3 separate regions of the Homo sapiens genome follow, and all the other regions are linked to region 3. Evidence: fine-mapped expression QTL. A gene starts in region 3. Each other region holds a variant in brackets. All regions are shown on one strand. Distances are between the middles of the regions.

Evidence for each region. PIP is the estimated chance that this variant, and not a neighbour inherited with it, causes the effect.
Region 1: its variant is the best candidate, but not a certain one, in a credible set for the expression of SLCO2A1 in tibial nerve (GTEx, PIP 0.88).
Region 2: its variant is the best candidate, but not a certain one, in a credible set for the expression of SLCO2A1 in tibial nerve (GTEx, PIP 0.50).

Annotation. Positions count from the first base shown.
Region 1 is chr3:133,949,675-133,957,852 of GRCh38, reverse strand. It overlaps SLCO2A1 (solute carrier organic anion transporter family member 2A1), which reads left to right. Exons shown (of 14, transcript NM_005630.3): 4 at 2,660-2,887; 5 at 4,092-4,190; 6 at 6,509-6,645. Among named protein-coding and RNA genes, the nearest start is that of C3orf36, 24 kb to the right of the region's middle. RefSeq lists enhancers at 1,169-1,698, 1,699-2,230, 7,764-8,178. The variant C/T (reference allele first, on the strand shown) is at 3,591.
Region 2 is chr3:134,055,789-134,063,966 of GRCh38, reverse strand. LINC02000 (long intergenic non-protein coding RNA 2000) reads left to right here and starts at 6,319. Exons shown (of 2, transcript NR_135574.1): 1 at 6,319-6,557. RefSeq lists an enhancer at 7,071-7,877. The variant G/TG (reference allele first, on the strand shown) is at 3,445.
Region 3 is chr3:134,025,094-134,033,271 of GRCh38, reverse strand. It overlaps SLCO2A1 (solute carrier organic anion transporter family member 2A1), which reads left to right and starts at 3,347. Exons shown (of 14, transcript NM_005630.3): 1 at 3,347-3,565. The coding sequence starts at 3,470. RefSeq lists an enhancer at 2,852-3,352.

The DNA of each region.
Region 1 (8,178 bases), 75 kb after region 3:
TACGCCAAGGGAAACTAAGGCTCAGAGACATTTAGAAACTTGCTCAAGAATACATAGGGATAAAACCAATTTTTATCTTACCTAGGGATAAAGCCAATTTCTTAACTCCCTGTACTGTGTTTATTTCATCTTATTGTCCCAGATTCTAGCACACATCCCAGCAGCCAGCCCCTTTCCTGAGAGGAAGTAGGTGTAAGGTCCCAGCCACCTACAGAGGTCAGAGAGCTCATATGTCTGAAGGTGGCTAGGGATGGAGGAAATCTTCCCATGCCATGTTCTTCCATCCCTGAAAAATGTGTGTTCTGTCTTTTCAAGCTGCCATCAGACTTGATTTCAGTTTGGACTTTGAGTCAGACACATGCAGGTTCGGATCCCAGCTCTACCCCCAAACCAGCTACTTAGGTATGGTCTTATGTAGTCTCCTGCTCACAGTAACCCCTGTGAGCAGGAGACCACATACATCACAACCTTGGCACAGGGCCTGGCCCTGTCAGTACATGGGTGTTTGACATTTCTGGTGCTAGGACTTGGATCTCTACGGTAGAGCCTGTAAATCAGAGAGAGGCCCAACACTCCACGGGGGAGAGGTGGTGGTGGGCTCTGGTGGGACTTAGGCTCACCTAGCTCAGGGCAGCACAAGTGAGAATTAAACTGAATCCCATCAGTGTTAAGTGAGCAAGATCGGTGACGTCAGCGATGGGTTGTGGTTGGTGGGGATGGGCAGAGACTCAGCTCCACTGTTGCAGGCCTAGAGCCTAGAGCAGAAAGAAGGGCAATGGGAATGGGACAAAGAAGAAATGGGAGAGACGTTGTTAAGCTTTGGATATATTTATTTACAAAAACCTTGAATTTAAAAACTTTGTTGCTTTATTTCAAAAGTATTTCTTTTAACACAAAAGAAATGTGTTCATTCCAGACAAATTACAAAATAAATGAGGCAAATAAAAAAAGATCAGCACAATCTCATCACCCAGAGAGAGCCATCATCTTCCAGAGGTTTTCTCTGCATATTCAAGTAGTCCACAAACGTTTTATAAATTAGGGAACATATTCTTCTCCAAGCTACTAGTTACTATTTTTTTATTCTAACAAGCTGTTCCAGCTGTCTTTCTGTGTAAAAAAAAGGCTATATTTTCACCCCAATTCTAAAAGGTTGCATATTATATCACCATGTGGTCGGGCCACTCTATTTGAATTCTGCATTGAAAGGCAGGATAATGAACATGGAGTGGGAAGAGGGAGGTACAGAGGGACCCTGACTACAGTCCCTGGCTGCTTGCCAGGATGCTTCCTTCCACGGACACAACTATTGAAGGTCTAGATGACCCTGACCAAACAGACGCCTTGGCTTCCTTTCCTTTTCCTGGGACAGGCTTCCCTGACTGATGGGGGAGCTCCCATGACAGCAACTTTCTAATGTGTCCTGCATAGACACCACTGGAGAGGGCAGACAACAGTGGGGCCAGGCTGGACGAGGCGTGTGCGACTGGGGAGAGGGGAAAGGGCAATGAAGAGCACAGACCCCTCTCCCCAGCCCCACCATCCAGGGCAGCCCTGAGCCCAACAGCACCGGCAGAGTCCAGTGTGAGGAGCAGGGCTAGTCTACGGCGCTCGGTTTTCCTCTCTGTGGGACTTAGGCTCACCTAGCTCAGGGCAGCACAAGTGAGAATTAAACGGAATCCCATTAGTGTTAAGCGAGTGAGATTGGTGACGTCAGTGGTTTCCATTAGCCTGAATGAGACAGGGAAAGGGGATCTCATGGAAAGGAGCCCTCGAGAACCCCTAAGGCCTTGGAGAGCTGCCAATGCTGATTGCTTAGTGTGGGCCAAATTAAAAACAGAGGCATGGAAGCGGCAGCCCAGCCTGGCAAGGGCCACAGCCACAGGAACCATAGTGCCCACAGGCCTCACCCAGGGTGTCTGGGACCCTCACAGAAGGGCTTCGAGAAGCAGCCTCAGCTTCCCCATCTGTAATATGAGAGGCTGAACGAGAGGGTCTTAAAGCCCCTCCAGCATCAGAAGTTCTGGGAGCTTCCCCGGAACGGTAAGGATATTAAATGTCTTTGGCAGTAGGTCTTCCAGTGTGACTTGGAGCTGGGCTCACTAAGAAGCAAAGGCCCTGGGAGTCACAACCAGGGACTCAACCCACGTTGTAGGTGACACCAACCCGGTGCAACAGCATGACCTCTGTCCTGCTGAAGAGAACCCTGGGGGCCCAGAGCCCCAGGGCTGAGCACAGGGTGCTGGAGGCCGACGGGCCTGGGCTTTGACCCTGGACCCCCTCCCCCTTTTCCAGCTGGGTGCCCCTTTCCTCCACAGATGAAGGTACTGACTTCTCCGTGCTCAGCTCCCCACCAGTGCCCATGGAGGAGAAGGCATGGACACTCACGAGAGGAAGATTCCTCTCCACCTGAGAAATAGCAGCTCCTGGGGCCGGGGAGCCCACATTCCACCTCTCTTTCACACCTTTGTTTCTAGAGTCCCTCCTGCTGGCCAGACAGAAGGACGCGGTCCTCAGGAACCATGTCCCATTTGCTAGCACAGCCTCTGGCCAAAGTTGGTCCTTCCCCAAGGGGCCTGGGAGAAAGGCCGGGTTTGGAGGCCAGCCGGTGGAACCAGGAGACCAGGGTGGTGGAGACCAGCAAGCACTCTCGTTGCAGGGAACAACAGCCGCTTGCAGGCCGAGCTCTGCCAGAAGCATTGGCAGGACCTGCCTCCCAGTAAGTGCCACAGCACCACCCAGAACCCCCAGAAGGAGACCAGCAGCATGTGGGGCCTGATGGTGGTTGCCCAGCTGCTGGCTGGCATCGGGACAGTGCCTATTCAGCCATTTGGGATCTCCTATGTGGATGACTTCTCAGAGCCCAGCAACTCGCCCCTGTACATCTGTGAGTCACCGGCTTGAAGAGGGCTTTGGGGAGGGGTGAGGTCCTGATGTAGCACTTGATGAGGCCCTGGGGCACTAAACTGAGGTCCCACCCTCTTTGCTTACAACCCAGCAAATGAGTTCAGAGGCCTGGGGATCCGACAGACTTGGTTTGAATGTCAGCTCCATTACCTCCCAGCTGTGTGATCTGAGGCAAATGGCTGAACCCCAGGGCCCCAGGTTTCTCACCTCCAGGAGGAGGCTGATATTATCTGTGCGCTGGATGGCTGTGGGATACATGAGATGGCATATGTAACCACTTAGCTGGTGTTGGGCACTGGATGGACCCTAAACCAACAGCACCTACTGTTGCTCTCTGACTAGTCCTTCAGGCACAGGCCAGGACACACATATCTTCTCTGAGACATCCACTTAGGAGCAGGTTGGCCTCAAAGAAGCCCATGCAAAGCAGATAGCAGATGACCACGTGAATGCCCAAATCCTTCCCTTCGAACAAGCCACTTTGGGACGGGCGTGGTGGCTCATGCCTGTAATCCCAGCACTTTGGGAGGCCAAGGCAGGCGGATCACCTGAGGCCGGGAGTTCGAGACCAGCCTGATCAACATGGAGAAACCCCGTCTCTATTAAAAATAAAAAATTAGCTGGGCATGGTGGCGCATACCTGTGGTCCCAGCTACTTGGGATGCTGAGGCAGGAGAATCACT[C/T]GAACCCAGGAGGCAGAGGTTGCAGTGAGCCAAGATTGCACCATTGCTCTCCAGCATGGGCAACAAGAGTGAAACTCCATCTAAAAAAAAAAAAAAAAAAAAAAAAAAAGAACACACCACTTTGAGCATCCTCAGGGCCTATACTCCAGACCACACAGACCACCCCCACAGGCTCTGTGGCACCATGAGCTCCTCCGAGGGCCCCCAGCATCGTACCCACAGGGAGCATCACCTGGCATTTTTAAATGCCTTGGAGCCTGTTTCCTTCCTGGCAAGCAGGTCTCTTTGGAAGTTGGCTGGAGGAAGAAATAGCCTTGGTTCTATATGTCTTGGAATCTTGAGTGGTTCTGGCCTTGCTGGTGGGAGATGCCACAGGTGTGGGCTTATCAGGCTTGGGAACAGATGAAGTGATATCTCAAGACTCCCCCTCAGCTTGGGAGCCCAAGGCTGCCAAACTCTCTCCATTTATCTCAGTCTCCTTCCCCTTACTTCCTTTTCCAGCCATCTTATTTGCCATCTCTGTATTTGGACCGGCTTTCGGGTACCTGCTGGGCTCTGTCATGCTGCAGATCTTTGTGGACTATGGCAGGGTCAACACAGGTGAGTATGTGCAGAGGACACCCATTCCCATCCCCAGCTCAATAAAGCAGCCCCCAGCCCCCTCATCCAATCAGAACAGAGAATGAAGCTTCAGCTCCAGATGCGCTCTGCCACCTCCTCACTCGCTCACTCATCCCTGCAGTCCCTCGGAGAGCCAGGAGCAGACAGTGTGTGCCTCCTCTCTCAGGGCCCACGCTGGCCACTGTGAGGAACAAGCTGCTGAAGCAAACTCACTTTCTGCCCTTAAGAAGTTTGGAGACCCAGGGCAGGACCTCAGGTGTTGCCACCACAGCGCCCATCTTGGTGGCATTAAAAATATTTCTATGGGCTGGGTGCGGTGGCTCAAGCCTGTAATCCCAGCACTTTGGGAGGCTGAGGCGGGTGGATCACGAGGTCAGGAGATCAAGACCACCCTGGCTAACACGGTGAAACCCCGTCTCTACTAAAAATACAAAAAAATTAGCCGGGCGTGGTGGCAGATGCCTGTAGTCCCAGCTACTTAGGAGGCTGAGGCAGAAGAATGGCGTGAACCTGGGAGGCAGAGCTTGCAGTGAGCCGAGATCATGCCACTGCACTCCAGCCTGGGCGACAGAGTGAGACTCTGTCTGAAAGAAAAAAAAAAAATTCTATGGTTCTTTGATTCTAAGATGTTGCTGGTTCTTTAAGATTTAATAAGAGCTCTTTTGAGGAAAAAAAAGAAACATCATATAAAATATACACACGGATGATGACTCACATCCAGAGGGTATAACATGGTGTTTGACTGTGTGGGCGCTGGGACGGGACTGCCTGGGTCTCATCCTGGCTCCATCTCTTACTAGCCAAGTGATCTTAGGCAAGTAACTTTGTCTTTCTGTGCCTCAGCTTCCTCATCTGTAAAATGGAGCTAATGATAGTAAAATAAAGTTGTTTTAAAGATCAGAACAAGCCTAATGTATATTAAGAAGTCAACAGTATGAGTTCGTATTCTTCAACAAGTGGTATGGATGAGAATATATAGTCCCTAGACACCAGCATAAGTTCTGAGTTAACCATTCAGGGAGCCAGCCCCAGGATGAATGGAGCAAGGGCTTCCTGCCTTTGAGAGTGTGTCCCACACTACCCAGTCTCCCACAAGATGGGGAAGGTCAGCACCACAACAGAGGGACAGGCAAAGTGCTGTAGGGTGGAGAATGTGGGGAGTGTGTGGGTGGGATACGAAGTTCCAGCTCGGCTGAAGGGGTGGCTGAAAGGCAGGACTGAGCCAGACTCCAGGAAGAGCACTCCCACCACTGCCCTGCAAACAAGTCACGTCACAGATATCTGGCAGGTGCTAGTTGCAACCATGCTGCTAGAGCCTAGACTCCCGTCCCTAAGACTGTCAGACCACAGTGCCATCTGCATGGTGTCATTTGGCTGTACTTCCAATGAAAGTAGAAAGCCAGGGGGTGTCTTATGCCTCAGGATCAAGCCATCCCTGTCCTTTTGCTGGCACTCCCCGAATTGGTTCCTGGCTCTTGGTTGCCCAAAGAGACCAGCAACTGAGTGCCCAGTCCACTCAGGGCAGTGCCCAGGGAAGCTTGTCATGATTTGACTGAACCGTTCTGCCACCTTCTCCTTCCCTTTATGCCCGGATAGTTTCTTTACACAGAGAAACACAATGGCAGACTTTTACACGTGTGCAAGAGAATTGCCAAGAGAAAGCTGCTCCTTTGGAAGCCAGGCAGTTCACACAGTTGATGGTTGTTTCTTTAGGCTTCTAAGGATTATGGGGCCTCCTTTGTTAGGGATCCATAAAGTTGGGAGGCAGTAGTTTAATGGTTAAGAGGGCAGGTTTGCATACCAGGGAGACACAGGCTTGAAATTGACCAATGAAATGGCACTTACTAGCCTTTACCTGAGGCAAGGGACTTAACCCCTTCTATCCTCAGTTTCTTGACTGGTGAGAGGTGGGCAGACTTGCTAGAGAACCCAGTGGAAAACAGATGGAAAGCACGTGGTCTAGAGTCTGGCCCATGGTGTGCCCTTGTGAGTGAGAGTCAGCTCCCTTCTTCACTACTTCTGCCAAGGGCTGGGAGTTGAATAAGGAGGTGAAGGTACTGCTCCCTCCTGCCCGGGGATTTTCTGATGCTGTGCTTCATGTGCAGTGGCCTTGGTCCTCTGGGAAGACCAATAGCTGGGAGAGGGAATGTTGTTTTGACCAAGAATCTAGCTCATGGCTTGCCTCTTCTGCATCCTGGGAAGAAAATCAGTGAAACTCCCCCTGATCAGAGGTTCTGTTTCCAGTAAGGTGAGATCATGCATTCAACAAACATTTGCACTCTTCGTTTTCTCTTCAGCTGCAGTTAACTTGGTCCCGGGTGACCCCCGATGGATTGGAGCCTGGTGGCTAGGCCTGCTCATTTCTTCAGCTTTATTGGTTCTCACCTCTTTCCCCTTTTTTTTCTTCCCTCGAGCAATGCCCATAGGAGCAAAGGTAAGGTTCCAAGAGCCCATGACTCTACCTGATGGAGTTGAAGAAAGGGATGTGGGGGTAGAAAATAAATAGAGCTAAAAAGCTGCAGCATGTTAAGCAAATTCAGGGTGAAATCTAAACAAATTTCATGATGCAGGACTTCCCAGAGGCTTTAAGAGGTGAGGGTGTTGGTGAATTTCCAAAAGGTGGTATCTCCTATGTGTTCCCGTACCATGTTAGCATGTCAAGGATCAGGAGACCTCCAGGGAACAGTTTGGGAAACACTGAGCTTATCTAAATTGAGCTAAAGAATTAAGAGCCAATAAAGGCCAAGTCTGCGACCTGGTACAGTCAACTTTTACATTTAATAGGGCCTATCAGTGTTCAGTGTTTGAACCTGAAAAACTGAGTAGGAAGGGATTCCTAGCATTGAACAGTGTTGAGGGTGGCTGAAATTGGAGCATATTTTGAGCAGAGGACCTTCCAAGCATCTTCCAGTCACGCCTGCTGGGGAAAGGAATCAGGGAAGGATGAGAACGGAGAGCAAGGAAGAGAAGTCTGGGTAGGGGCTTGATGTTCAGCTGAAGGGTCTAAAGATTGTTCTAATTCCATGAAGTTCTAGAGCACTGCAGTGACTGGGTGGCCACTTGGGTGGCAATATGGCAGCTAGGTTGAGTTTAGGGGGTAGGGAAGGAATGGAGGCTGGAGATCTGAAGAGGCCAGTGCAGAGACCAGGTGAGAGATGGGGAATGCAGCAATGGTTGTCGGAGAGCTGGGACAGGGCAAAGATAAGGATAGACATTCCTAGGGTGGATGCCCAGAAGGACTCAGCAGTGAGCTGGCTTGGAGGAGAAGAAGGAGCTAAAGTTTATGCCTAGGCTTCAAGTCCCAAAATAGAGCTCAATGTTTGACAATGAGGTATATAAAATCTAGGCCCAGCCGGGGGGAGAGGGGCAGGGGTGGGAGGACCTCAGCTTGTCTTGGGGAAGAATTTCAGACGTTGGCTACACATCATGCAGGTGCTGGGGTCAGGCAGACCTGGGTTTGAATGAAGCTCTGCTACTTATAAACCAGCTGAGTTGGCCAGGTGTATAATCTCACACTTTAGGAGGCCAAGGCAGGAGGATTGCTTGAGCCCAGGTTGAGATTGGTGGGTAGGGAAGGAATGAAGTTCAAGACCACCCTGGGCAACATAGCGAGACCCCATCTCTAAAAAAAAAATTATTTTAAAAACTTAGCTCAGCATGGTGTTGAGTGCATGTAGTCCCACCTACTTGGGAGGCTGAGGTGGGAGAATCACTTGAGCCCAGGAGTTCGAGGCTGCAGTGAGCTATGACTGCACCACTGCACACCAGCTTGGGTGACAGAGTGAGACCCTGTCTCTAAAAAAATAAAAATAAAAAATAAAAAACAATGAACTAGCTGAGTGAGCTTCGCCAAGTTTCTTTGTTCCTAAGCTTCCTCTTCTTTACAGTGCTCCAGCTAATTAGAGTAGCAGTATGGGAAAGCGTTGTGAGGAATGAGACAAAGCATATGAATACTGGGCACAGGTCC
Region 2 (8,178 bases), 31 kb before region 3:
TTTCTTTCTTTCTTTCCTTCTTTCCTTCTTTTCTTCTTTCTTTCTTTCCTTCCTTCCTTCCTTCCTTCCTTCGTTCCTTTCTTTCTTTCTTCTTTCTTTCTTTCTTTCTTTCTTTCTTTCTTTCTTTCTTTCTTTCTTTCTTTCTTTCTTTCTTTCTTTCTTTTTTTCTTTCACAGGGTCTCGCTCTGTCACCCAGGCTGGAGTGCAGTGGTACGATCTCAGCTCACTGAAATCTCCATCTCCTGGGTTCAAGTGATCTCTGCTTCAGCCTCCTGAGTAGCTGGGACCACAGGCACACACCACGACACCTGGCTAATTTTTGTATTTTCAGTAGAGACAGGGTTTCGCCATGTTGGTCAGGCCGATCTTGAACTTCTGGCCTCAAGCGATCCACCTGCCTCGGCCTCCCAAAGTGCTAGGATTACAGGCATGAGCCACCACGCCTGGCTGAAGTCATTTTTCAAGTACACTGAGAAACCAAGCTGGAGTTGATGCAGGAATGCAGGTTGCTGGACTCCTAATCCACTACTTAAATGTCACCTTCTCCTTGAGGACTTCCTGACCACCCTGTATCATATTGCAACTTTCCCTCACCCCCAGTATTTCTGATCACCCCTGCCTTGCACCTGTATTCTCCATAGCACTTTTCACTTTCTAATATGTAACATAATTTACTCATATTTATTATTTGTCTCCTCCTGGTAGAATATAAGCTCCCCAAGGCTAGGGACCAGTGTGTGTTTTGTAAACTGATTGATCCTAAGCGTCTGGAGTAGCCTTCAACAGTGCTTAGCATAAAGCTATCTTTAACAGATACTTATTGAATTAATAAATTTATCAGAGACCACTACCCTGCAAAGAACAAGGGATTCTAACTTACTCTTATCTGAGTTCAGTTTACCCCTCCAGCACTAACTAGGTGCTTTATTTTACCTCCTTATGTTCCCACTTTCTCATCCACAAATATGATTTCACTGGACTACTATGAGACATAATGCAGATGAAGTGCCTAGAAGAGTGCCTGGCCTACAGCAGTGGACTCGGGCTAACATCAGAGAGCAGCAACTTTATTTAACAAATAAATGTTGTGGTAAAGCTCTGGCAAATTAAACAGGACAAGCAGAGTGTCACCATACCTGATTTGGATGGGAAGCTCTCAGATGAAATATTTTCTTCCCTCCTTGAGGGGGAATGTTCTGGTCCAGACCCAGTGAGTTTGAAAGAGCTCTGCAGGAGGAGTGAGGAGGCTGGGTGCTACAGTCTGACTGTGTCCGCAAGATTCATGTGTTGGAAGCATAATCCTCAAAGCAGCTGTGTTGAGAGGCAGGACCTTTAAGAGATTAAGTCATGATGGTGAATGGATTAATGCTGATTATTACTGTTTTGGGTTCCTGATAAAAAGGATGAATTCAGCCAATTTCCTTTCTCTGTCTCACATGCCCACTTCCACCTTCTGCCCTTCTGCCATGGGATGCCCCTCACCAGATGCTGGCATCATGCTCTTAGACTTCCCAGCCTCCAGAACTGTAAGAAATAAATTTCTTTTCTTTATGAATTACCCAGCCTGGTACTCTGTTATAGCAAGAGATAACAGACTGAGATACCACGTCTCAGCTCAGCTCTCTCACTTCCTGGCAGTGGGGCTCAAGGCCACATACTTTACCTCTCAGGAACTCTTTCTTCTCATCTGTGAAATGGGACAAGAATGTCTTCTCTGCTGACTTCAGAAGGGTCAGAGAGATTAAAGGAGAAATCACAAGTGCAAATGCTTCGTGAGCAGTATAGGACTGTGCCTTTATGGGTGAAATGGCTTCGGTTGGCGGCAGGGCTGCAAAGCTGCTCATTTGGGATAAGATGCTTTCTGCTCTAGGTAGATGTTACAGGCCAAATTGTGTTCCCCCGAAATGCATACATTGAAGTCCTCACCTGCAGTACACCTTAGAAGGTGACCATATTTGAAGACAGGATCTTTACAGAGGTAATTAAGTTAAAATGAGGTCATTAGGGTGGGCTCTAATCCAATATAGCTGGTGTCCTTATAAGAAGAGGAATTTTGGACACAGACACATTCAGAAGGAAGATAACATGAAGAAATAGGAAGAAAGTGATCATCGACCAGTCAAAGAGGGAGGGCTCAAAAGAAACGGATCCTGCCAACACCCCGATCTTGGACTTCCAGCCTCCAGAACCGTGAGACAGAAATTTCTTTTTGAAGCCATGCAGTTGGAGGTACTTCATTATGGCAGCCCTGGGAAACTAAGACAGTACGCCTGGACAGAATGCAACAGATGTCAGCACGCCCAGAGAACCACGCTGCTCACTTCTCTCCCACTCAGACCCTTCTGCATACACATTTGCTTCAAACATCCAACCCCTGCCATCCAGCCCCTGCCTCCCTGGTCCTGGAGATTTCCAGCTAGGTCTCTCAGCCTGAAAGATCTGGTAGCTCAAAACGAGTCCCCATAGCACCTTAGGCTGTCCCTAAGCAGGGACCCTCAGGAACACACCACGTTGCACAAGCAGGAGCTTTCTGGAAGGGCCTTGGTCGCATTGATTGAGAGGAAAAGTTTAGCCTCTTCTCTCCTTTTCATCATTGGCAGAAGAGAGAAGAAGGCTGAATTCCCTGAATATGGCTGGGTAGGCACCCAGGGCCCAGGGCCCAAACTCCCTCGTCCTTCCTCACACTCTGGATGTCCTGTATGGACACGCTGGCTTCCTTGGGTTGGGAGATCTGCTTGTGTCAAGTGATCACCTCTGAGCCACAGATGCTCAGATCACCCGTGTGAGGGCAAAGGGCTCCGGGAGGCTGCTGGCCAGGGCCAGACTCGCTTCTCCACTTAGGGATCATCTCTCTGCTGCAGCCACTCAGCCCTAGATCCTCCTGTCCTGAGCTGAGTTTTGATTTAGTCATGAGATGGGGTGTTGTTCTCTTGCCTTCCCGAGAATCACCCGACCCCAGCTTCCTTTCACACAGGGAGCCCTTTAAACAGCTTTGGTCAACAATATAGGCTAAAGGTCAGGAGAACAAGACCGACATGTCAACACTGTGAATATCAACCCTCTTGGGAGAGTTTCCAAGTCAAGTAATGAAGTAGAAATCACGGACAACCTTGGTAGAAGGGATCTTATTTCTTCTGCAAAGTAAGGGGAAAAATATAAACAAAACAAGGTTTTTCTCAGTAAAATAAGGCCACCCACATACACTCCCCTTAAAAATCTAGGTTTGCCTCGAGTAACTGTGGGTTTTGGTCTATTGTCATGTTACTGTCAAGCTGCAGCACATGGTCAGAGGCAATCTCCTTACTTGACTGGGTCCTGATTTAGGAAAAAGGGAGGACCCAGGCTGCCTAAAATCCAGAGTCAACATTTCCCAGCTCTTCTCTCCTTTCCTGTGTATCTGGCAGCCCCACATGGACACACCCTGGGGCCATGGGGAGAGGGGTT[G/TG]AATTCCAGCCTCACAGCCTTGCTCTCAATTGCCTCCCACATATAAGAAAACAAAAGGTCAGCCACCCAAGCTCAGTCAGCATGGAAGGGATGAGCCCAAAAGGAGCTGATGATCCTGGAAAAGCATTCATTCCCCAGTAGCTGCTGGTTTTGGGTGTTTCAGGTCCACAGGGAATCCTTTTTGACATAGGATGGCGCTCAGAGTTCAGACTTTAGCTTGGGTGTGAATGTTCAGTCCTGGTCAAGTCTTCTCAGTGAGTGTTTTGGACCTTTGCTCCCTCCTCCGTGCCTCTCCCAACCGCCCTAAATATGGATGTTTTCTAACACAAGCTGAACAATGCTCAGACGTCAAGGTCGGTGGCCTCTAATCTATTTGTGCAAAGGATCAAATGAAAATGGGCTTTTCCTGACAGTTCCAAGACTGGATTAGCAGCCTGTGTTTGTGGGTGTTGTGGGGCTGGAGCGACCAGAGACATCCATCTTCTGTCCTCTATCAGTGGAGGCAGCTCCAGGGTAGGGAGGCAACAAAGGAGCTGGCCCGGAGCCCACATGTCTGAGGAGTCCCTGGAAGACCCCCAGGGCAGATGGTTCTCAGCAGCCTGCCTGGAAGCACCTGGGAGAAGGGAGCCACATCTGCTGGGACCTGCCTGCATTTGCAGCTTCCACCATGAAGTCGAAGTTCCCTGGAGCCCATTGCCAGGGACTTTTCCTTCTCATTGTTGCCTCCACATTAAAATGAGGGCAAATAACCAAGCAGGAATGTATTTTTAAAAGACGTTTAGGGAATTTCCTGGTTGTCACCACAAAATAGCTCTCCATACCTCCTACTTTTGTGGCCTGATCCAGTTGGAATTCAGAATGATATCCTGGGAGTCATACAATCCGGACCAATTTTAAAAAGTTCAATTATGTGTACTAGATAAATCTTACAAAGTCAGGAATATAAGAAACATGTTCAGTAAAGATTTCCAATAACAGTATTTGAAAGCACATCAGACATTCTGTGGTCTGTAGATGTCTGTTCCACCCACAGGGGTCCTATATGGGCTGTGACCTGCTGCCCAGATGGCAGCTGACTGTCCCACCCAAAGGCAGCCATTAGCTGGTGAGGCAGCCCCAGGCACGTGGGTTTAGCTAGGCAAGTGTTTACTTTCCTTTGCCTCAGAGTGGTTCTACATGTGCTGAAATCCAACTGACCTTGAAGGGCTTCTCAGGGAGTTTTGAACTGGGGACACGCAGAGTGAGAAGCAGAGAAGGAGAGTGGGAAGCAGAGAGAGACACAGAGGGAAGCCGTGTCATAAGAATGACAGATCCCCCAGGGCAGGAGCCATGGATGCCAGCATCTGGGCAGTAGCAAAATAGAGGGTCTCCTCTGCAGAGTGGTTTTCCTGGGGTACATTGATGGGCTCCTGACAGCTAGGTTTGCACCCTAGCCCTGAACTTACTAGCTGTGGGACTTGGGCAAGTTACAAACCTCTCTCTCTAAGCCGTAACGTCCTCCTCCTCAAATCGGGATGCTGATGACAACCTGTTCCAAGAGACTGTTGCCAGCATCCAGCATAAAGCACACAGAGTATCTGGGGCCATGCCTAGCACTCAGGAAGAGGAAATGCTCAACAATTGCCAGCTATCTTCATTGTTAAGGCTGCCTTTGAATGAATCCTAAACCCTATGTCCTAACTGCACTGATAGTGTCCTGCCCATCTGTCTGTCCTTTCTCCTTTACAATAAACATTCGTGACTCAAAGTAACTGGAGTGTGCCTGTGTTTATCGCAGCTTGGAAGAGCCTCTCTAGCATGGAAATGAAAACTTTCTCAATACCAGAGAGCCCAGGTAGCCACTCTGCATTTAAACCCACATGGGAAAAGCAGCCAGCAAATGGTTGGCTTGAGCTTTGAAGGGCCTGGATCTCAAGTGCCCTTTGGGTCAGTGCAAACTGGACAAAATGCAGTTATGGGGCACTGCTCTGCTGCCCAACGGAGACGTGGTGGAGGCCATTTCCAGACTGGAGGGGAGGGAGAAGCTGGTGTTCTTGTCCAGAGGACACATAGCCAGCTGTGCAGCTGCACAGCTGACTGTGTGTCTATGAACTGGGCAACTGGGCATGTGTGTGGACAGGAAAAGGTGTACATGCAAGAGTGCGCTATGTCCCGTGGCCATGGGCGCCTGTGTGTTTGTGCCAGGAGAGATGCTACGCAGGCAGGGCTGGGGGGAAAGCATGTTTATGTGTGTCTGTGTGGGCTTGTACCTAGGGAGAGCTGTGTGTGTGTGTGTGTGTGTGTGTGTGTGTGTGTGTGTGTGTGTGGTGTCGGAGAGCTGTGGGTGAGGGTGTCTCTAGCTGTGTGCACCTGAGAATGGATGCATGTATGCAGGTGTGTTTGATCCTGTTCATGGCCACGCATGTCCAAGTGTGTATGTGATTCTGCCTGTGGCTCGTGTGCGCAGCCACTCTCTTTACCTTCAGCAGCTCAGCTGGCCTTCATGTAGAATGGGCGGGGCAGGCCACCAGGGTCACCTGGCTGACAGGGCTCTAATGATAGCCTTTGGGGCCTGCTGTGTTCCAGGAACCAGAGCCATTCAGGAACAGCTGATGAGACTAGGAATGAGGAAGTCGCAAAGGTTCCTCTGGGTTTCCATTTCAAGGGGCACAAATTGACCTTTGCCTCCTCGGCCACTTAGGCTTGCTGCTTGCTCCTTGTCCCTTCCCCCAGGGAGGGAGGAGAAGCAGTTTCACTTTTCTTGCCAGTTATTTTCACTTTCAGACTCCCTGAGAAAGGTGAGGCAGGACTGGTGTGATGTGTGCCCGAGTCTCAGGCACTATCGTGAGGGTGCAGGGCCAAGGCAGGTGATCCTGCATGGAGACATTCTAGGTTCAGGGACTGCCTGTGGATCCATGCCAATTGCTGTGATCAGCCAGCCCATCCAGGAGAGAAGCTGTGACTTCCCCAAGCACACCAAGCTGTAACTCTCTGGGTCCTGTCATTTGGGCTGATGAGAAAGCAGCTTCCGAGGAGAGACATGATTCATCCAAAGAGACGATTCATGTGAGAGCCAGCTTTCAGGCCAAGTATTGATGGGAGACATCTGGCTGATTGGCCAACAGCAGGTAGAGGTAGGAGCTAAATTTCCATCCTACATAATAACAGCCTATGCCAGACAGCATAGCTCCCAGCACCTCTGTCCACCCAGAGATGCCTTCCTGGCCCTCCCTGGCCACTTCATTCCTGCCCTCACTGTCCCTTCATGCCTGGTCAGGTGCCAGGCAGGCCCCAGCCAACTGGACAGGCCCCAACCACTTCCAATTGGGCTCCAATCATCTGACAGGCTTCTCCCAGGGTAATCAACCCCTGCTTCTCAGCCTGAGACTTCAACCCTTCAGACAGGCCCTGCCTGCTCCCTGTAGGGTCCCTCCTGCAAAGGCCATGGCAGCAGACCCAGCTTTCCCCTGGGTTATGGATCCCCAGCTCCCCCTGCTCCCAAGTCTGAGTGTGCCTGGACCCTGCTGCACACTCATAATGGACTCTGCATGCTCCAGAGTGCCAACACCACACACACATACACACACACACGCTCTCTCGCTCTCTTTCTCTCTCTCACACACACTCTCAAACACATACACTCGCACACTCACTCACACTCTCATACACACACTCACATGCTCACACTCGTTTTCTCTGTCTCTCACACACATACTTTCACTCTCTCAAACACACACGCTCACTCGCACTCACATACACTCTCTCGTTCTCTCTCTCACACACACCCCCACACACCCACTCACACACTCACATTCTCACACATGCTCACACACACATGCACTCTCACACTCTCCCACCTTTTATAGGTGCTGTGCAGCCTCAGGCCTTCCCCTCCCCCGCTGACTGCCCTGTCTCATGGCCATTGTAAACTGTTCAGTTCTGCCTGAAGCTTGCCCTGCTGGCTGCCCCAGGCCGCCCTCCTGGGCCACTATCTGCGTTTCCAGCCTGTGTTAACAAGATGCATCCTGGTGGGTTCTTGACATTCTTCCAGTTAGAATGAGTATGTTCTGCATTTCAGATAAAACAATGATAGTCTTTCCCAATTCACAGGAGAAATCAAGTTAATAGTAAGAATTCTCTCTCTTTGAGTCCTTCTATTAAATGTTTCACATCTGCAGCCTCAAACCAAGAAACAATCACACATTTGATATAAAGCACCTAGACTCAGTTTACCAACCTTAATCTTTACATTAAATTTGGCTGGTGTTTACTTTTATCCAACTGAAATGCTTCGTGTGTCTGAAATGAAATGCCAGCATGATGACATCTCACTTGTGGAATGAATTAACTGGGCCCCAGATTTAGCAAGTGAAAATATACAAGACACTCAGCTCAACATAATAAATAATACTAGATAAACAATAAATAATTTTTTAATCATAAGTATATCCCAAGTATGGAATATTTGCTAAGTATGGAATCCTTATGCTAAGAAATGGTTGTTTATCTAAAATTCAAATTGAACCAGGCATCAACGTTTGACCTGGTGGTCCTAACCTAGTGCTTACACCCGCTGGCATGAGCCATCACACATCATAGGCTCTGCAAGGAACTTGCAACCCCCATAGCAAAGAGCTGAGTTTGTCAATGGTCTACACTAGAGTGTGGCCTAGGGCTTCTCCTGGCAGTAACCCCGCTGTCTCAGGTTTTAGAGAGTGGGATTACCTCTGGTCAACCCCACTGATACCCAGCCCT
Region 3 (8,178 bases):
ATTTCTTAAGCTTTTCTCTCCTTCCTACCACCATCCCACTGCTGCCATGCCAGCTTTTATCATAGCTCCTGGGATTCCTTCCACAGACTACCTAATTCCACTCTGGCTGCCAGAGAGGTCCATGTGAAATGCAAATTAGCCCAGGTCACCCTTGGTTAGAAGCCTTTAACGGCTCCCCATTGTGCTGGGGAGAAAACCTAAACTCCCAGCCTCTTTGCTTCACACACACATACCCACTGCGCTTGGTCTTGAGCTCCAGCCAGACTGAAACCATGGAGTAGGTTTACCCTCTTTACCCTAATCCTCTCAATCCTACTAGTTCTTAGGGCTCAGCTTGACAGTCGCCTCCTCCTAGAAGTCTTCCTGCTGTCCAAGGTGCATTAGGGCTCCACTTCTATGCTCCCATAGCAGCTGTGCACAATAGCTTTCTTCCTACATCACAGCCACACTTTCTCTTCTTGTTTCCCACCCTGAGACCATAGAGTCTTTGAGGTCAGGAGATGTTCTTGTGGTTTAGCTTTTTTTAAAATTTATTTATTTATTTATTTATTTATTTATTTATTTATTTATTTATTTGAGACAGAGTCTTGCTCTGTAGCCCAGGCTGGAGTGCACTGGCACGACCTTGGCTCACTGCAGCCTCTGCCTCCCAGGTTCAAGCAATTCTCCTGCTTCAGCCTCCCAAGCAGCTGGGACTACAGACACCTGCCACCATGCCTGGCTAATTTTGTATTTTTAGTAGAGAAGGGGTTTCACCATGTTGGCCGGGATGGTCTCAATCTCCTGACCTCAAGTGATCCGCCCGCCTCAGCCTCCTCAAGTGCTGGGATTAGAGGCATGAGCCACCGTGCCCAGCCTATTTTTTGTATTTTTTCAGTGCTAGGAAATATTTACTGAAATTTAAGGATGGAAAGTCTGGGAGACCGACTCTAGGAGTGCTCTTGAAAGGAAATGGGTTACTCCATGTGTAGGTGTTGAAAATGTAAAACACAATATTATTTCTCCCTTTTTCCCTAATAAAACCCCAATTTTGTTCAGAGGACAGCAATAGTGTTAATTACACTTCTTAGCATCCTTTGCAGGGGGTAGCTATGTGACCCAGGTTTGGCCAAGAAGACTTAAGTAAAAGCAACTGTGCACGCAAGGGAGAGATTTGCTCCCTTGATGTAAGCATGGCCCCTTCCTGTTTCCTGTCTTCCACATCTTTCCTGGAATTAGGAGAGGAGGCTGGAGATGGAGCAGCCATCTTGTGACAATGAGCCAGCCACAGGGATGGGAACCACAGGCTAAGGAATCTTGAAGGGCCTAGGTCATGACCCCTGGACTACCTACTAGCAGACTTCTAATTATTGAGAGACAAATAAATCTCATTTAAGTCATTTTGGTTGGCTCTCCATTACATTTAGCTGAACTCCACCCAGTAAAGGTCAATGAAGGAAGATAAGCATCTGTGAGCATTTCTGAATAGGCTTTTCCTTTGGAGATGATGCTGGCGCTGACGGGAGGCAGAGGGCCAGGTTAATGGAACAGGACTAGGTGAGGGCTGGAGAGGCTGATCCTCCCAGGGGTTCTACCAGAGGATCACAGTGAGGCCTCAGGGTTTGAGAAAGAAGCTCCAGGCATGGTAGCCCTAAGGTGTCTGTGACCTTGGCCTGGGGGTTTTCTGGTCCCTGTTTGGTTCAACTTGCAAAATGGGGCTGTTGGACTAGACAACTTATCAGAAGGCATAGTGCTTCAAGTCTGGGCTTAGGAGTCAGACAAGGCTGAATTCAGGGTCCAGCTCCACCACTTGCTAGCTGTGTGGCTTTCAGACAGCTTTCTTAGCCGACTGCTCTAGCATCCTTGTTTGTGGAGTCCAGACTCCATCAGTACCTATACCTGTAGGGCTAACGTTGGGGCTTCATGAAATCATGCATGTGGGTGCTCAGCAGAGGGCCTGGTATGCCCAGCACACACCAAGTGCTCCATGCTGGTACCTGTCCTTGTGTGCCATGTTCTCCCAGTGGACAGATGGGACCTGGAATTCATGCCTCCTCTGGGGCTGGGGCTGGGGCTGCTACAGTGCTGTGGAAAGCCTGTCAGGATGTACCTCGCTCTGTGGCTGAGTGAAGAGGCCAGAGGCTGCCCACTGTTCAACATCTTTGGAATGCTGCCGTGTCCAGGGAACTTGGGTCGCAGGTGGATAGAAGCCCCCAAGCCCAGGCCAGGCCAGACCAGGCCCAGAAAGGTATCAGGTCTTGGGTAGAATAAGAAGCCTATGTGGTCTATCTATCCTGTGGCCTTTGTCTTAGCCAAAGCCTCCTGGATATTGACGGCATCTTTTCCTGGGTTTGGGGTGGGCTTGGAGAGGTTCCCTCTGCACGGGACTACAGAAGTGAGGGAGCTGGAAAAATGCCTCCAGAGCTGGATTCCTCACTGCAGCTGCTTTTGGAAGAACCTTCTTATCCTTCCCTTGAGAAGCCTCACTGTCTCTTCTCGGCGCTTGGAATCCTGTTAGTAGAAAATCTTGGGGAAAAAATAAACCCACTATTCATTCCAGCACTGAGAAGGAGGTCAGTGGGGTGCGTCCTGTTTGTCCACACCCCCCCCACCCCCTCTACCCCTCCCCCCAGCACCCCAGGCCAGACCCAGCCATGCTGACACTTGACAGCCCCTGCAGTTTACCTTGGCTCAGGTCCAGAGACTTCGGGCCCAGCCCCCACCTTTTCACCTTGTTACCCAGCCCCCTCTCCAGCGCAAAGAGCAGTTTAAATATAAATCAGTCCTCAACACAAACAGAGCTGCAGCGAGTCTCAGAGCCATCACCGGAACTGAGGGCCCAGGTTTTCTGCGAGTGCAAACAAGCAGAGACTGGCTCCGTAAATCTCCCCAAGAACGTCGGGAGGGGTGCTGGGGCTCCCCTCCACCCCCGGCTCACGTTGGCCCCTCCAGCGCCCGCCTCGGGCACCCTCATATCCCAGCCTTCCTGCCCCCCAGCCCTGCCAACCTCTTTCTCCATCCCCTCCACTCACCCACCTTCGCTTCGCCCACCCTCTCTTCGCCAGTCCCCAGGAACCTCCACCCCCTTGCAACCTCCTGCCCCCGCACAGCCCTCACCTCCCCTCCCCGGGCCCGCCACCTCCTTCCCTCCCTCTCCGCCTCCCGGCAGGCGGGATCTTCTCGGGGCAGTCAAGCCTCGCGGGTCGCTGCGGCGTCACACCTGTCTGAGGGGGCGGCGGCGGCGGCGGCGGCGGGGCGGGGGCTCGTAGCGCCTTTGACACCCGAGGAAAAGAGGGAGGAGGGAGAGCGCGTTTCATCATCGGCGGCGGCCACTTATAAAAACTTCTAGGCGCGCACTCGCTGGCTCAGTCTCCGCTCCGCGAATCTCCTCCGGCCACTGCCGCCGCGGTCGCCTCTCACCCGCCCGGCCGCTCCAGCCCGAGGCGCCCCGACCCCGCGCCACTCCGCGCCCGGCCAGCCGCCCGCAGCCATGGGGCTCCTGCCCAAGCTCGGCGCGTCCCAGGGCAGCGACACCTCTACTAGCCGAGCCGGCCGCTGTGCCCGCTCGGTCTTCGGCAACATTAAGGTGAGCGGAGTCCGCGGGGTCTTCCGGGCCGGAGCCGCGCCTGGCGCACCTTCGGCTGGGCACCCGCTTCTGTCTGCCGGAGCCAGGAGGCTCCGGGAGCCCCGGGCTCCCTCCTGTGCCGCGCTCCGATCTCATCCCCGGGCGACGCGTGCTGGGCGTGTGTGTGCGAGTGTGTGTGTGAGCGTGTGTGTGTGTGAGCGTGTGTGTGTGCGTGCGAGTGTGTGTGTGTGTGTTCACACGCCTTCATCGGACTAAGTAATGGGACAGTGGAAGTACCTGCTTACCGCTTACTCGGACAACTCCAGGCAGAGTTATAAGCGAGAGAATTGTCCTCGATGATTGAAAAAGATCATCTCGAGGAACGCTTTTTCGGCCTCCAGCGGGCGGTTACTTCGTCAATGGGATGGGCTTGGAGGTGCCAGGGGGACCCCCCGCGCTTTGGGGGACAGACTGTGTCTCGTCCGAGCCCCCTCGTCCTGGGGTGGGTGGCCTAAGGGATGTTCTCCTTCCCCAGGCTTTCTTCTCCCGCCAACGGGGGCGGGGGGCTCTGCTACCTGGCTGTGCCGCTCGCAGTTATGTTTAGAATTCCCTCTCAGCGGGCGGCTTCCCCAGGCTGGCAACCAACCCGCGTGCTCAGATTGGCTTCCCTGGTCTGGAAATGGCCCCAGGAAGGTCACAGCTCTCACGGTTCAGTAAGGTCTAAGCAGGTCCACTCACCAGGCAAGTTATGGGGAGCGGGTGAGAAGATAGGGTGTTGGCAGCTGTTAGGATGAGAGCACCTTTCCCATGGGGTCGGAAATGCTTTCCACTCCCTCACAGGTCCAGGAGGACCTGGAATGGTTCAATCCGCACTCGGGCTCTTTTGCCCGTTCTGCCTAGGCAGAAGTAACAATGGAAGATACCTCCTGAGAGGCCAAAGCTGCTGCGGTGAGGATGTGGGAGACTGCAGAGACTGCATCAAGGCCCCTTCTGGTCAGGGTGGGATCATGGTGTAGAGAGGTTGTTTCCCACAAACATACAGTCAGATGGGACTGAGTAAAGCCTCCGGTGGTGCAATTAAGGGGAAGCCAGATTACACAAAGGGATGATGGGGGTGTCCGTGGACTGGTTATATGTGTCCAACAGAAAGGGATCTGGAGGTCAGAGTGGATCTCACCTGCATACTTACTCAGCTGGGATCTCCACTCCTGCTTCTGCTCTTTCCGCACCGCAATAAATACAGGCTGAATTGATTTTGTAGTTGTATATGGATAAGCAACAGAAATTTTGAGATAGCTTAAAATAATCTCCAAATCTCCTCATTTTTGGCCAGACCTGGATGGAAATGTTGTGCGCAGTTTTGGTTCCACCATTTTGGAGAAATTTCATCAGGAATTTTGGAACCTTTGGTATTTATAAATTAGGAATTGAGATGAAAGGGTAGGGACTAGGATTAGATGGTGTAAAGAAAGGGGCCTCTGCAGGAACCAGGGTGGGGCAACCTCACTTCATTTTCACCAAGAAGGGCAGGAGGGACGGGTGTCCAGAACAGATTCCTGACAGTGAGGGTACAGCTGAATGAGACTGATCCGTTTAGACCCACCCTGGTTCCCTAAAATAAATGTTTATGGCAGCAATTTATTTGGAGATCTATATAAATAAGATGATTTCTCATGTGTTGATGATTTAACCACACGTACCTGAGGGCTGGGCTCAGGCCAATTGGCCTCCTAAAGGAGTTAAGTACTCATACTGGCTAAGAGTTTTTCTTGACTCTAAAAATGAGATTCTGTTAGTCATCACCTCCTTTGATCCATACTAATTGCAAGACCAGAGTTTGGAGGACTTCCATTTAACTCCACTTATCAGCCTGAAACCAGGTACGAGGTTGGATAGCTTAAGGTAAATCTTGAATCTCAAATTCCATCAGTTAAAGTCACTTGCACCTTTCCCTCCTGGGGCAATAACTGGGAGCTCTGCTATTTGAAGGGATATTTCCTCCCAATGAGAGTGCTTGTAATAGCCCTGCCACTTTGCAGTGGGGGATGGGTTGCACATATCTTGGGACATGTATGACATGGTGGTGTAGCAGGACGAGCCACAGACAAAACTCCTCAGACACTGAGTTAAAGAAGGAAGGGGTTTATTCAGCCGGGGGCATCAGCAAGACTGCTGTCTCAAGAGCTGAGCTCCCCGAGTGAGCAATTCCTGTCCTTTTTAAGGGCTCACAACTCTAAGGGGGTGCACCTGAGAGGGTCGTGATCGATTGAGCAAACAGTGGGTACGTGACTGGGGGCTGCATGCACCAGTAATTAGATCGGAACAAAACAGAATAGGGATTTTCACAGTGCTTTTCTGTACAATGTCTGTAATCTATAGATAACATAACCGATTAGGTCAGGGGTCGATCTTTAACTACCAGCGCTAGGGTGCGGCTCCGGGCTGTCTGCTTGTGGATTTCATTTCTGCCTTTTAGTTTTTACTTTTTCTTTCTTTGGAGGCAGAAATTGGGCATAAGACAATATGAGGGGTGGTCTCCTCCCTTATTCCCCTCCTTTGAGATTCTCACTCAATAGTGGGAGTTCTCACTTTCATTTTTACTACCTGTGTCTTCTTGCAAGACAGATCGATAGTGATTCATATAGTACACTTGTGCTGAACCTTTTTGGTGAACTAAGGTAGCGATGAAGCTTTTTATCATTTGAAGAAGTATAGGTAGCAAACAAGGGAGCAGTAAGCAGGTTCCTATTACTATTATAACTCTTATTATTAGAGTTTTAAATTCTCTTAGCGCTGGGAACCATTTTCTAAACATGGCCCCAGGATCAAATCCATGCCACACTTGCACAGGCACATGTGCCAGTTTTGTCATATCTCTTAACTGTGTCTTCAACTACTTGCCCTTGATTATCTATATGTAGGCAGCAATTAGAAAGGTTAAATTTCCTACAGACCTCTCCTTCAGCTGCTAGCAAGTAGTCAAGAGCTAATCTATTTTGATAGGTAGCATTTCTCATCTGAGTTTCTTGCTGGGCCAGAATAGTCAAGGCTCTGCCGGTTTTATTAGTGATTATTTTTAAGACAGCTTGTAACCGTATGATTCAGTTGATCACGTAAATGGGGGTCTGGTATCCTCACAAGCCGTCTTGTGCCTAGCAGGCCTATAATATTGTATGATTTTCTCAGGGGGCCATTTATCATTTTTTCAATTTCCTATAGCTATGCTTCTCTTTTCGCGGGAAGCATAGACAGGGAAGCCCAGGAGTTCGCCTGTTTTTATGGGCAGTAGGAAAAAGATGGTTTAATAGTGCCAATAACAAAACTACCTGCCTACTGGTCAGGTAATTTGGCGTAAGCTCTATGCCTACGTATCTAGTATAATCCAGTGGGGGCTGTCTAGTCCCGGTGGGACTCCGGGTGGGTCCACACGGTTTGCAACTTTGGGAATTTACTAAATGGATTTCTCTCTGTGTGATTAGAACTCCACCAAATGACTGTTTTTGTGATACCATTATAAGTTTCTGTCCTAGACAAAGAAGTCGTCCTATGGGGTGAGTAAATTCTTTTCCTTCTCTAGCTATGCAATATTGTCCAATAATTGAGGCTTTTAGGACCTAGAAATTATCAGGGTGATTCTTCTGAGCTGGGAATTCATCAGGAACTGGGTCTGTAGGTACTAATTCTCGGGCTTCCCATGGTCATTGATCTCTTATTACAGTTCCTCCACATACATAACATGAAGTGACATTGAGAGAACATGCTCAGCTAATTGCAAAAACAAATTTCTTGTTTTTCCTGGAATTTCTGGTACTGGCACATTTAGTTCATCATAGAAAGTTTGAAACACTGGCTTAGGAGAGCGTTTGTAAACTTCTCTTCAAACCAAGATATTTACTCGAGGATCCAGTCCAGCCCCATTGATTCCTAAGGTCACACGCTCCTCTTTTTTCCAGCGAGGATCAAGGGGATTGGTTATTACTAGCTCTAAGGGGTTACATTGTCCCTTAGTACAGGAAGGGCCATTTTTTCCTTTCTGAAGGTGGACTGGATCTTTTTCATTTTTTTTTTATCGAAGTGGCCTAAATGACACAAGACCAGTATTTACATTTCTTTCCACACAGTCTTAATTTATGACAGATGTACTTATTTTCTGCTATATAGCCTCTTTTCTAATTAAGAGAACCACAGCTTATTCCTAACTTATTACTATTAATGACAGCACAGGCATCAAATTTTAAGATGACTCGTTTGGGCACCCCTTTTTCTTCTGTTTTGGCTAGCACTTTACTCATATCATTTGTGAGCCCTCACCAGTCCTCAGTCCTCAATCTAATTTTAAAAACTGTGGTCATGGGAGGCTCAGATGGGTCATAACACACATCAGGTTGGTCATTTCCTGGGCTACATACCTTGTATAGAATTATATTATACAACAAGTTCTTTTTAGAGTTCCAGTACGCTTATAATAACCATAAAATAATAGGACCGTAGCAACCTTTTGTCCTACCTCAGTGACTTGATGTATACACTGGGAATAGTCCTCAGTCTGAGGAAGGTCAGTTGAAGTCCTTATTGTAAAAATGCAAATTTTAAGGAAAATGAGTCCCGCAATGAGTTTTCTCATGCTTCGGCCG